2 linked regions of the Homo sapiens genome follow. The protein of the gene in region 1 purifies or fractionates together with the protein of each later gene. This does not show direct contact. Each region holds a gene or a part of one and is shown on either strand. Other genes may lie near its edges. The genes, in order: CD200R1 and FUT8.

Region 1 (7,285 bases):
TATGAATGACCCTTCCTTCCTTCCTGATATTAGAGATTTGTGTTCTATTTTTTTCCTTATCAGTCTAGTTGTTAGTTTATAAATGTTGATTATCTTTTTAAAGAACTAGCTTTTGATTTCCTTAATTTTTTGCATTGCTTGTTTCCTCTTTTATTGATTTCTGCTCTTATATTTATTATTGTGTTTTCTCTCTTTTGTTTCTTGCTTCTATGGGTGAATTTTACACATTTCTTCCTTTAAAATTAGCACTTAAAGGTATTACTTTTCCTAAAACCACTGTGTTAGCTGCTTATTTCAAATTTTGGCATGTTGTATTTTCATTATCATCCAGTGAAAACTTTAATTTCTTCATGAATTTCTTCTTTGAGCAAAGGGTTGCTTAGACGTGTGTTTGATTTCTAAATATTTGGTATTTTCTTAAAAATCTCATTGTAATTGATTTCTAATTCAATTCTGTTTTGGTTGGAGGACATCTTTTATATGACTTCAGTTTTTTTTAATGTTTTTGAGACTTGTGGCACAGAATGTGGCCAAACTCAGCGAATATACGATGTGCACTTGCAAAGAATGTATTCTGCAGATGCTGGGTTAGGGTACTAAAAATATGAATTAGGTCAGTGTGGTTGATAACTATATTAGTTGTTTATAACTATGTAATGAATTACCCCACAACTTAGCAGCAGATAAGAAATATGTATTTTGAAAGATAAAAATACATCTTAAGTTGATATTGATACTTTTCATTAAAATTTAGGACTGAGGATTTTTTTTTCCTTTTTTTTTTTTTCTTTGACGGAGTGTCACTCTGTCACCCAGGCTGGAGTGCAGTGGTGTGATCTCAGCTCACTGCAACCTCTGCCTCCCGGGTTCAAGCAATTCTCTGCATCAGCCTCCCAAGTAGCTGGGATTACAGGCATCTGCCACCACATCCGGCTAATTTTTGTATTAAACTTACTTATTTTACATCTATTATCTTCTTTCTTCCTCACTATAAAATTGAACAATACCAACATACAGACATACCTATCTCTCCACAACCTCACCCAACAGTGTATGTTGTCAAACTTTTGGATTTTGCCAGTTATAGATGAGAAATGGTATTTCCAAATACTTTTAATTTGGATTCCTCTTACCATGACTGATGTGAAATATATTTTCATATGACTAAGAGATATTTTTACTTCTTTTTCCATAAAATTTCTGTCCATATGTTTAGTCTGGTTTGCTATAGGTTTGGGTTGATCTTTATTTTTAATCCAGCTTCATCTAGCCACGTGCCAGGGAGCTGTGCAGGCCACTGTTCTAAGCCCATGAATTCTGACAATTGTCTCTTCCCGAACTTAACTATTCCCGTTCAGATCTAGAATTCATAGTGTCTGTGTCCAGATGCCTTTGTAATCCTGATTTTATGGACTTGCCATGCGATCTGCTTTTTTAAAAGTTTGTCTCTCAGTGCTCTTGCAATAACATGGCTTAAACTCACTTCAGTTTGGGTTAATTTGGGTTGTGTATCTATCCTAGCATATTTCTTAGGCTCTAACCATTGATTTCTACTCATAGCAGTAAGACTTACTTGCACTAAGATTCATAATTGGGTAACTGAAGCAGCTTACTAGCCAGGTAGTCTTGGTCAAATTGCTTAATCACTTAATCTACATTTCTTTATCTGTAAAATGAAAATAATCATATCTGCTAGTTATAGAGAGATGGAAATAAAGAACATAGGCAAATTACCCAAAATCTATTCCTGTTATACTCATTCCATAAATTATCTTAAAAGAACAGTTTGCTAAAGAAAATGGCAGCTGAAAGGGGCAGTAGATTAAAACTTTTTCCAGAAAAACACTGAGCATTAAATTTTACTCTAAAAGGTGTCTCTTTGCCAGTCAGATACACTCACTATAGATAAGCTACGAGTGTATCTTTTCCTTGTGAACACATTCCAGGAGCTTTGTGCCTTGCACAGTTAGAGCCTGCCGATATCCAGCCTCAACTCCAATTACACATCCAGGTTTTCTCACTTCATGGCAATACTAAACTATTTATAACTCTTGTAAATTTTTATTTGGCTTTGTACCTCCTTTAAATGCCATTATTTTTGTTTGCATTTTCCCTTCTGTCTTCCTGGAAAACTCCTCATGTACTTAGATCCAGCTAAAAAATTACTTATTATAGGAAAGCATGCCTAATCTCTTACTCCTGTTTTCCTGGAATTTAAACATCTCTTCTTTTAAACTTCTATACATCACAGGCAACTTCGATCATTGCACTGAAAACTTTGCATTATAATTGTTTCCCTAGCTACTGCCTCTCCTGGATCTTAAGCTCTTGGAAAAAAGGGGATATTGTTTATTATGATATCTCTGTGCCTAGCAGAGTACTTTGCCAATAATTGCTGCTTAAAAGATGTGTACTACCAATTCTCACTAAGAGCTTGCCTTGCAGAAATGTGAACTTAATAGGCCATTGTCTATATCACGGGTCCCCAACCCTGGGGCTGCAGACTGGTACCAGTCCTTGGCCTATTAGGGATTGGGCCGCACAGCAGGGGGTGAGCGGCAGGTGAGTGAGAATTGCGGCCTGAGCTCCACCTCTTGTCAGATCAGTTGGAGGCATTAGATGCTCACAGGAGCATGAACCCTATTGTGAACTGTGCATGCCAGGAATCTAGGCTGTGCATTCCTTATGAGAATTGAACTAATGCCTGATGATCTGAGGTGTAACAGTTTCATCCGAGAACTATCGTGCTCCCTTCCTCCTTGTCCGTGGTGGAAAAATTATCTTCCTCGAAATGGGTCCCTGGTGCCAAAAAGGTTGGGGACCGTTTTCCCATCATAGATTCTATGATGTGACTTCAACAATGCTTAGGAAAATCCTTTTATTCCATACCAGCAGCCAATCAATAGTCCCCACTAAACTTTTTTTACCTCCTCATTGGTGCTTGAAAAGCCTAGTAAAATAATTTCTTCCACACTCAGAGATAGACTAAAAGCCTGGAAGAAGACTTGAATATAAAGCAAGAGGGGGGTGATGGGCACTCTGGGCTTAAAGCAGGACTATGCCAGAGTCAGGAAGAGAAAGTCAAAAGTTTATACTGGGACAAATTTTGCCAAGACTTTTGCTTGGCTGTCATAATTTAGATATTCATTGGCAACTGCAATACAAAAATAGTCTGAAGAATGTGAAAAAATATGATTTTAACTAGGAGTCAGATCTATTAATGCATATTTCTCTCTCTACCCCCTATGTCTTTTTCAAAATTCAGAAGCGGAGGGTGCTGCTCAACCAAACAACTCATTAATGCTGCAAACTAGCAAGGAGAATCATGCTTTAGGTAATGTGCATCTTTTAACAATAATTCTAGTAGGGGAGTGCTTGATGTCCATATAGGTTTTACATTTTTGGATCTTGAATTGTCTCATGCATTATCTGTATTATCTAAATGATATTATATTTAAGAGTGTTAATAAATTTTTCATTCTGAAATTATTTCTATGCTTATTTAGTACCTATTTTAAGAATGGGATCACTAAACAAAACCAATGGCCTATTCAAAAAATTTGTTATTCAACTTTTGAAACCTAGATTATTATCCCAGAGCACTTTTTAATAAGCAGATCTTAATAGGTGTTAATGATTTATTTTCTATATCCTCTCTCAACCCTATTTTCTCCAAAATTTTTGTTTGCCATTTTAATTAACATTGAAACAGAAAAGAAAAGTTAACAGACTTTATTTTTTTAGAGAAGTTTTAGGATCGTAGCACAATTGAGTGGAAAGTACAGAAATTTCCCCTATGACCTCTGCCCCCACATGTGCAAAGCCTCCCCATTATCAACATACCTGACTAGAGTGGTACATTTGTTTCAATTAATGAACCTACATTGAAACATCATCATTATCACATTATCAAAGTCCAAAGTTTGCATTAGAGGTCACTTTTAGGGTTGAATATGAATGTTTTCAGGCAAATGCATAATGACATGTCTCCACCATGATAATATTTTATAGAGTAATTTCACTGACCTAAAAATCGTCTCTATTCTACCTATTCATCCTTCCCTGCCCACTAACCCCAGGCAATCCTGGTATACTGTCTCCATAGTTTTGTCTTTTCCAGAGTGTCATATAATTGGAACGTTACAGTATGCAGCATTTTCAGACTGGCTTTTTTCACTTAATAATATGCATTTAAGTGTTCCCCCATGACTTTCCATGTCTTAATGGCTCTTTTTTTTTAGTACTGAATAATATTCCATTGTTTGACTATACCACAGTTTATTCATTTGCCTGGTAAAAGACATCTTGGCTGCTTCCAAGTTTTGGCAATTAGGAAAAAAGCTGCAATTAACACCCATGCACGGGTTTTTGTATGGATGTAAGTTTTCAACTCTTAGGGTAAATACCAAAAAGCATGATTGTTGGATTGCATGGTAGGAGATTGCTTAGTTTTGTAAGAAACTGCCAAACTGTCTTTCAAAGTAGATGTACCACTTTGCATTCCTGCTACCAATTAAGTTCCTGTTGCTCCACTCCTCGCCTTTGGTGTGTAGTGGTTCTCATTGTTGTTTTAATTTGCCTTTCTTTGATGACATATGATGTAGAGCATCTTTTCATATGCTTATTTTCCATAAATATGTACATTTTCCATATATATCTTCTTTGGTAAAGTGCCTGTTAAGATTTTTGACCTGTTTTTTAATCTGGTTGTTTGCTTGCATATTGCTGAGTTTTAAGGTTCCTTTGTGTGTTTTGGATAACAGTCTTTTATCGGATATGTCTTTTGAAAATACAGTTGGCCCTCTGTATCCATGGGTTTCAAATCTGTGGATCCAACCAACCATGGATTGGAAATATTTGGAAAAAATTCCACAAAGTTCCAAAAAGCAAAACTTGAATTTGCCTTACTACATTGAGTCCACAGGATGTAGTGATATACAGGCATTGTATTAGGTATTATAAGTAATCTAGAGACGATTTAAAAAATACAGGTGGTTATATGCAAATACTAAGCCATTTTATACAAGGGATATGAGCATCTGTGGATTTTGGTATCCATGGGGTGATGGAATCCCTCAGAGGCAACAAGGGATGACTGTATTTTTTTTTTAGTATGTGGCTTATCTTTTCGTTCTCCTTTTTTTTTTTTTTTTTTTTGAGACGGAGTCTCGCTTTGTCGCCCAGGCTGGAGTGCAGTGGCGCGATCTTGGCTCACTGCAAGCTCCGCCTCCCGGGTTCACGCCATTCTTCTGCCTCAGCCTCCGGAGTAGAGTAGCTGGGACTACAGGCGCCAGCTACCACGCCCTGCTAATTTTTGTATTTTTAGTAGAGACGGGGTTTCACCGTGTTAGCCAAGATGGTCTCGATTTCCTGACCTCGTGATCCGCCCGCCTCGGCCTTCCAAAGTGCTGTGATTACAGGCGTGAGCCACTGCTCTTAGAAATTTTTCACAGAGTAGAAATTTTTAATTTTACTGAAGTCCAGTTTATAGATTCTTTATTTTATGGATTGTGCCTTTACTGTGGTAGCTAAAATGTCACTGCCAAACCAAAGATCATTTGGACTTTCTCTTATGTTACCTTCTAGGAGTGTTTTTAGTTTTGCATTTTTATATTTAGGACACTGATCCATTTTGAGTTTATTTTTGTGAAAGGTGTGAGGTCTGTATCTAGATTTAATTTATTTTTGCATCTGGATGTCCAGTCGTTCCAACACCATTTGTTCAAAAGACTCCAATGTATTGCCTTTGCTAATTTCCAAATACAATATTTATGTGAGCCTATTTCTGGGCTCTCTATTTGGTTTCATTTACTTATTTAGCTCTTCTTTTGCTAATAAAATACTGACTTGATTATTGTAGCTTTATAGTAAATCTTGAAGTCGAATAGTGTCAGGCCTCAAACTTTGTTCTTCTTCAATAATGTGTTGACTATTCTGAGTCTTTTGCCTCTCTAGATAAACTTAAAAATCAGTTTGTTTATGTCCATAAAATAACTTGCTGAGATTTTGGTTGGGATTGTGTTGAATACATAGATCAAGTTGGGAAAAACTGGGACTTTGGTAATATTCATTCACCCTATCTGTGAACATGAGGTCTCACTCCATTTACTTAGATTTTCTTTGATTCTTTTCCATCAGAGTTTTATAGTTTTCCTCATATAGATGTTGCACATATTTTGTTAGACTTATACCTAAGTATTTCATTTTTGGGGATGCTAATATAAATGGTATTGTGTTTTTAACTTCAAATTCCACTTGTTCACTGGTGACTTATTGGAAATTGTCATACAAACATTGACTTTTGTATGTTAACCTTGAATTAATATCTTCCATCACATCAATGAGTCAATACAATACAAAAAATTGACTTTTGTATGTTAACCTTGTATTTTGCAACCTTGCTGCAATTTCTTATTAGTTCTAGGAGTTTTTTTGGTCAATTCTTTCAGATGCTTTACATAGATAATTATGTCATGTATGAACAAAGACAGTTTTATTTCTTCGTTACTGATCTTGATCCCTTTTATTTATTTTTTCTTGTCTTATTGCATTAGTTAGAAATTCCAGTGGTGAATTAGTTAGAAAAGCATTAGTTAGAAAAGCAGTGGTGAAAAGAGTCATCTTGCTTTGCTCCTGATGCTTTGCTTTCTCACCATTAATTATGATGCTAGCTGTAGAGTTTTTTGTAGATGTTTTTTAAGTTGAGAAATTTCTCTTTATCCCAGTTTACTGAGAGTTTTTAAAAAATCATAAATGAATGTTAAATTTTGTCAAATGCTTTTTATGTATCTATGGAAATGATCATATTATTTAGCTTATTGATGTGATGGAAGATATTAATTCATTTTTGAATTTTGAGCCAGGCTTGCATATCTGGAATAAACCCCAGTTGTTCATGGAATATAATTCTTTTACTACATTCTTGAATTTGATTTACTAATATTTTACTGAGGATTTAAAAATGTATGTTTATGAGAGATATTGGTCTGTGGTTTTCTTTTTTGTAATGTTTTTGTCTGGTTTGGTTATTAGGATAATGCTAACCTGATAGAATGAGTTAGGAAGCATTCCCTCTGCTTCTGTTTCTGAAAGAGATTAAGGAGAGCTGGTATGATTTCTTCCTTAAATATTTAACAGAATTTATCAGTGAACCCATCTAGGCCTCGTACTGTGTGTCCTGAAAGGTTATTAATTATTGATTCAATTTATTTAATAGATACAGTCCTGTTCAATTTGCCTGTTTCTCCTTTAATTTATTTACTAGATATAGTCCTGTTTAAACTGC
Region 2 (7,285 bases), on another chromosome or scaffold:
GTAGATATAATTCCTTTTTTTTTTTTTTTTAAAGTAGAGATAATTCCAATAAAAAAATGGACCTTTTAGACATCTGGAGAACAATATCCCCAGGTCACTTAACCCTTATCTCCTGCAGTATAATGCAGTGCGTCCAGCTGATCTACCAAATTGAATGTGTGCCTTTGAATACGAAGCAGTTGTTTTGTGGCCTGTGGCATTTCATTTAGGTTTCTAAGCTGTAATAAATTAGTATGTTAATTTACTTCTTTCCATTCACATATTCTTTAAATCCAAGCCTAGAAACTGATAGTTATATGTATATTAAAATCATTGGAATATTGGTTTTTTTGCAGATAGTGTTTGGGCTGTTTATTATCCATAGCTCTTCATTATGTAAATAGAATCTCAATGCTGATAAAGTAAATAGATTCTTCCATTTCATTAATGGTTATTTTTGATTTATGATAAACTGCATTTAATAAATCTCTTGATTTAGTTAAATGGTGGATACATCATTTCATATTATAGCAAATTGATAAATATAAAAGAAAGTTTTACAATCATAAGAGTAAATATTTAAAAAAACTTGAATAAGTTACTTTACTAAACATAAAATTAAGATTTTTAAACAACTCTGAAACTAAAAGTATTACTATTATGGTACCTTTTTTTTTTTTTCCCCCAAAGAGATGTGATCTTGCTGTTTTGTCCAGGTTGGCCTTGAACTCCTGGGCTCAAGCAATCCTCCTACCTCAGTCTCTTGAGTAGCTGGGACTATAGGCATGTGCTACCACAGCCAGCTTTATTATAGTACTTTTGTACCCTGCATCAATGCTGCTTCTGTTGATACTTTTCAAAGGAGATATCAACTTCTGGTCTTCAACAGTAGTGTAGCATCCTCTTATTGATTCTCTGGCTCATATTTCACTACCGTATAGTATGGAGTTTCTTTCTTGGAGTTTGAATTGTTTTTACATTGCAGCTTGTTATAGTGAAACAATTAAACATATTTAAAAGTAAAAGATATTTACGACTGATTTTTAAAGAACCTGTAAAAAAATCTCCAACAGAAGAATATTATATGGGGATGTGTAGATTTAACATTTTATTTTCTTTAATTTTTTTTTTTTTTTTTTTGAGATTGGGGTTGGGGGTTGTCTCTCTATGTTGCCCAGGTTGGAGTGCAGTAGTGGCGTGATCACGGCTCACTGCAGCCTTGAACTCCCTGGTTCAAGCCATTCTCCCGCCTTAGCCTCTGGAGTATCTGGGATTATGGGTGCATGCCACCATGCGTGGCTAATTATTTTTTAATATTTGTAGAGATGAGACCTTGGTATGTTGCCCAGGTTTGTCTTGAACTCCTGGGGTCAAGTGGTCCTCACACCTTGGCCTCCTAAAATGCTGGGATTACAGGCGTGAGTCACTGTACCCGGCTCCTTTATTTTATTAAAAAGATTTTTGTTTGTTTGTTTGTTTCTAAGTTTAAAAGAGACAGGGTCTTGCCATGTTGCCCAGGCTGGTCTTGAACTCCTGACCTCAAGTGATCATCCCACCTTGGCCTCCCACAGGCGTGAGCTACCATGCTTGGTTGTAAGATTTTTAAAAAATGGATTAGTTTCAAATCTCAACTTCTCTTTCTTTCAACATTCTAATCTCCTGGCATTTTTTTCCTTTCCCCAGCTACCCCCCATCATCCAACAGTCTTCCATTTGGAATAATGGGAAATCAAACCAATAAAGTTAATCTTACCTCCCACCAGGCAAAGGTTTTTCTTAATCTCTACAATATTCTGAACATAAAACCCATATAAACTTTATATGATACTACACATTTTCCTTTTAACGGAGGAAGAGCAAATGGGACCTATGGAATTATGCCGTATTTGTCAATATAAGGGTTACTTTTGTACTCTTACTGAAAGCAGAGTTATAGGGCTAATTTCATTTAAATTTTCTTACCCATCTACTTTAAAAAAATACCTCTTTGTGGTAGTCTTTTTTTTGGTCAGAAAATGACAATGTGAAGGAGAAATACGTTTTGAATTTATAAATCTTCTTTTAATTAACAAATTATACCAATATAAGGGTAGTGTTAATGTGGTTCAAATTTGCCTTTGCTATTCTGCCTTTTCTTCTATAGTGATTGTATAGTTATACTATAACTTCTTCCTCGAAGCACTGGAATAAAAGAAAAACTTTTAAAGATCACTACGAAATGCTCACTGTATTTGTTGTATTTTATAACTTGGGTTTTTAAAATTTATTTTTCCATAAACTGAATAAATATGAAAACGAACTTGAAAGATCTTGTCACAGCCTTGATGACTGGTCAGTATAAAGTTCACATTATAAAATAATAAAACATTGATAATAATCTTAGATGAAAATGGAAAATTAAGCTAATGTTTATTTTAGAACCTGAGTAATGAGTTTATATCATGTAGCAATGAGGCACATGAAGACGGTTAGAATTAGTTTTTCTAATGAATAAACTTCATGATATAAACTTGAAAGTGCATAAATGCTATAACTTTCTGATTGTAAACTTGAACAAAAGTAAAATGAAAATGGGAGAGTCCTCTTAATTACCTTTAACGTATAACTAAAATGAACCTGTGTATCTGTCTAAGTCTTATTTGATCAAGACTTTCAATGGACAATGAATGAGTTTTAAGTTTTTATCAATGTTGTGACTGATTTTTCTATAATATCCCTTAAATGAGATATCAAATTCTAATAATATCTAGAACCAGATTAAATTTGGTTAGAGTATAAACAATATTTACAAACCATCAAAACTATAATAAAAGCATTGTAATGTTATTTAATGACTTAAGCCAACATTCCATAAGCTAATCTAAGCATTTTTACAATTAATACAATTGATAGTAATATCTTAATTAGTGGTAAAGTGGACAGATATAATTTATAGATTCTGTATTGTCTGGGACCTTGGGGCAGTCAGTGAAGAGAGGGAGATAGAGAGAGGAGCATACTGGTTGATGAGCTTGCCTTATTTGGAGATGAAGGAGATTTATTCAGTTTTTCTCTTTCCCTCTACTTACTTCTCCTTGTTTGTCATCCTCTTCTAGCAATGGTAAGAAATGCGGGAATTGACCATCTTTACAGTATACTTTTTTCCTTAGAGTTCATAGAACATTTCCAGGTAAAACATTAGCTTTTATGTTATAATAGGTTTATTATAATGATATCATTTCCTTTTGAGGTGGTAGGCAAGAGACTAGAAGAACTTCATTTGTATAGCATTTAATATTATTTATTAAAAATGATTTTATAGGCCGGGCGCGGTGGCTCATGCCTGTAATCCCAGCACTTTGGGAGGCCGAGGCAGGTGGATCACCTGAGGTCAGGAGTTGGAGACCAGCCTGACCAACATGGAGAAACCTCATCTTTACTAAAAATACAAAATTAGTCGGGCATGGTGGCACATGCCTGTAATCGTAGCTACTTGGGAGGCTGAGGCAGGAGAATCACTTGAACCCGGGAGGCTGAGGCAGGAGAATCACTTGAACCCAGGAGGCGGAGGTTGCAGTGAGCCGAGATCTTGCCATTGCACTCCAGCCTGGACAACAAGAGTGAAACTCTGTCTCAAAAAACAAAACAAAACAAAAAAACAAAAACAAATTCTAACCTTCATGTGCCTCATTACTGTAATGTAAAAAAAAAAACTATGTTCATTGAAGAGAACTAACATATTAAACTAAAAATGAAGCACAGTGTTCTCCACTCATGGGAGTACTGTTAGCAGGTTTAAGACAGTTACTGTGAGAAGTTCACAAGGTGAAAGTGTCTTTGATAATTAGGGCCTAATCAATTGGGATTTGACTTACTCAATTTCTCCAACACATGGAATTGTACTGGTACCTGAAGGAGAAAAATATATAATAGAAGTTGTATTAGTTTTTATGTCTTGAGCTCTCTGAATAACTACTTGATTCATTCAGTTGCCAAATGTCAAAAGATTGTAATTTTGAGAAAGTTGATTCTTTACAATTAGAACTAAGCCAGGGTAAACAATTTGCTTTCTTTTTCTAAGTTTTAGGTTTTTCTTTCTCTCTTAGGAAGTTTAGTGAAACTCTAGGGGTTAGGCAGGTTGTAACTGAAATTCTTGAGGCCAAAAGGTCCTGTCTTATGCTTGGTAAACCGACCCCCTCAACAGCGTGAGAAATGTAGATGTACTGATAACCCTGATTGCTTCGTGACATAATTACAGACATCCAGCCCTCTATCAACTAAAATTCCGTTTATTTTTAAGGTTCAAATATTAGAAGTATCTGCTTGATACATCTCATAGGTTGTCAAGTGTGCATACGATGAGAGATATAATGTTACTTTTAATTTGTAAGTAAACAAACACACAATATTATGTTCTCAATGCTGAGTAAGCTGAAAAGATGTATACCTACTGAGGATGCACCAAATAATAAGCAACAGAAACCTGGTAATGTGCAATTAGGAATAGTTCCTCTTAATAATAATAAAAAAAAGATTAGTGTTTAGGTTTTAATGGCATAAAGATGTAATGAAAATAAAATTACCAAAGAAGTCTATTTTGGAGAAATTTTTGTCAGACTAGATAACAAAGAAAAGAACACATCCTTTTTTTATTTTTATTTTTTATTTTATTTTAGAGATGAGGTCTTGCTCTGTTGCCCAGGCTGGTGTTGAATTCCTAGGCTCAAGTGGTCCTCCTCCCTTGGCCTCCCAAAATGCTGGGATTACAGGTGTGAGCCACCAAACTTGGCCAGAACACATCCTCTATATGACTGTCTACAGAGGCTTAGAGTAGTACAGAAGTACCTGAAAGGAAATAATGATAAATAATGAAAATGTTTTAATAGGGATCATGTGTTCATTTCTACATGTATATCAGTATAGTACCTATCGTTTGCTGTTTCTGCTTGTAAATGCACGGTTGGAAAATAAGATACCCAACCTTTGGAAATTATTCAGGGAAGTGCATCTAAAGTTTAGAGAAAAGTTGGTTTCTTCATATTTTAATGACACTTTTCAGCACGTATAGTTCACCCTTGAACAGCACTGGGTTTGGGGCACAGACCCCCATCAAGATGAAAATCCACATGTAACTTTTATCTCCTCAAAAACTTAATTACTAATAAACTACTGTTGACTTCCAGCCTTACCGATGACATAGTCAACTAACACATTGTACCTTATATGTATTATATACTGTGTTCTCAAAGTAAGCTAGAGAAAAGAAAATGTTATTAAGAAAATCATAGGCCGGGCGCCGTGGCTCACGCCTGTAATCCCAGCACTTTGGGAGGCCAAGGTGGGCGGATCTTGAGGTCAAGAGATCGAGACCATCCTGGCCAACATGGTGAAACTCCATCTCTACTAAAAATACAAAAATTAGCTGGGCGTGGTTGCATGTGCCTGTAGTCTCAGCTATTCAGGAGGCTGAGGCAGGAGAATTGCTTGAACCTAGAAGGTGGAGGTTGCAGTGAGCCAAGGTTGTGTCACTGCCCTCCAGCCTGGCGACAGAGCGGGACTCCATCTCAGGAAAAAAAAAAAAAAAAAAAAAATCATAAGGAAGAGAGAATATATTTACTCTTCATTAAGTGGAAGTGGATCATCACAAAGGCCTTTATCCTCATTGTCTCCACATTGAGTAGGCTGAGAGGAGAAGGAAGCGGAGGAATTCGTCTTGTTGGTCTCAGCATGGTAGAGGTGGAAGGGGGAAGGGGAGGCGTGAGAGGCAGGCACACATGGTGTAACTTTATGGCAATACGTCATACTTCTGCCTTTTTTGCTTTTTCATTTCTCTGAAAACATTTCCATATGGTACCAATCCTTCTTCCACCGTTTGCTTTAGTTTCAGTGCCCATATCAGAGAAGGGTCCATGTCATGAAGGAGTCAAAAGCAGTCTTGAACAATCAGACAGTCTTCTGCCATATCGTCTGATGTCATTTTGTTTTCTTGCATTCCTTCTACATTACCTGGTACTGGATTGGAAGCACTTACCGAGTCATCTTTTTAAATTCCTCTTGTGTGATGTCTATTTCTTGAATTTCTCCAAGATTTGTATCTTGAAACCCTTTAACCCACCCCCCCCTTTTTTTTTTTTTGCCATATCCACAGTCTTTTTCGTGATTTCCTTGATTGGCCCTGTGGCAAATCCTGTGAAGTCATGCACAACATCTGGACACAGTCTTCTCCAGCAGGAATTTATTGTTTCAGGCTTGATGGCTTTCATGGCTTTTTCCATAACAACGACGGCTTCTTCAGTGGTGTAATCCTTCCAGACTTTCAGGATGGTTTCTTTATTGGCATTCTCTTTCATAGAGTTGACAGTACTTTCTGTAGTGTACTGTGTCCAGTGATCCTCGTGACCCCCTGATTTAGAAGCTGAATTAGAGACATTTTGTTTGGGGGCAAGTAGACTACTTCAGCACCTTTGGTGTTGAACTCATGGGGTTCCGGGTGGCCAGGGGTATTGTTCAATAATAAAAGAACTTACAGGCAAAATACTTCCTGACTTCAGGGACAAAGCATCAATGGAACCAATCCAGAAAAAGGGTTCTCATTGCCCAGGCTTTTTTTGTTCTATGACCAAAAGACTGGGAGCTGGTGTTTATCTTTTCCCTTCAAGGCTTGGGGGTTTGTAGCATTATAGATAAGGGCAGTTCTGATCATAAACCACACTGCATTTTCACCAAACAGTAGAGTTAGCCCATCCCTTCCTGCCTTTAATCCTGGTGCTTTTTCTCTTCCTTACTAATGAATGTTTTTTATGGCATTGTTTTCCAGAATAGGGCACTTTTGTCTATATTAAAAACTTGTTTAGGCGGATATTCTTTCTCCATATTTCTTTTTTTTTTAAGAGATAGGGTCTTGCTCAATTGCCCAGGCTGACATGCAAATGGCATGATCATAGCTCACCGCAGTCTCAAACTCCTGGACTTAGGCAGTCCTCCTGCCTCAGCCTCCCGAATAGCTGGGATGCAAGTGTGCACCACTATGCCTGGCTAATTTTTAAATATTTTTTATTTTTTTGTAGAGACAGGGTCTCACTGTGTTGCCCAGTCTGGTCTTAAACTCCTGGCCTTAGGTGATCCTCCCACCTGGGCCTTCCAGAGTGCTGGGGTTACAGGTGTGAGCCATTATGCCTTCCCCCAGCTAATTAAAAAAATGTTTTTTGTAGAGGCAGGGTCTCGCTGTATTGCCCAGGCCCAGGCTGATCTTGAACTCCTGGCCTCAAACGATCCTCCTGCCTCATCTTCCCAAAGTGCTGGGATTACAGGGATGAGCCACTGCACCT

The links.
Region 2: the proteins of CD200R1 (region 1) and FUT8 purify together in Homo sapiens (affinity purification with mass spectrometry; 2 studies listed by BioGRID and IntAct, with this or other methods). This does not show direct contact.

What each region holds. Positions count from the first base shown.
Region 1 is NC_000003.12:112,943,905-112,951,189, reverse strand, and holds part of CD200R1 (cell surface glycoprotein CD200 receptor 1 isoform a precursor), read left to right. Parts: intron 1-3,265; coding exon 3,266-3,334; intron 3,335-7,285. UniProt on the Homo sapiens protein: Inhibitory receptor for the CD200/OX2 cell surface glycoprotein. Limits inflammation by inhibiting the expression of pro-inflammatory molecules including TNF-alpha, interferons, and inducible nitric oxide synthase (iNOS) in response to selected stimuli.
Region 2 is NC_000014.9:65,415,669-65,422,953, forward strand, and holds part of FUT8 (alpha-(1,6)-fucosyltransferase), read left to right. Parts: intron 1-7,285. UniProt on the Homo sapiens protein: Catalyzes the addition of fucose in alpha 1-6 linkage to the first GlcNAc residue, next to the peptide chains in N-glycans.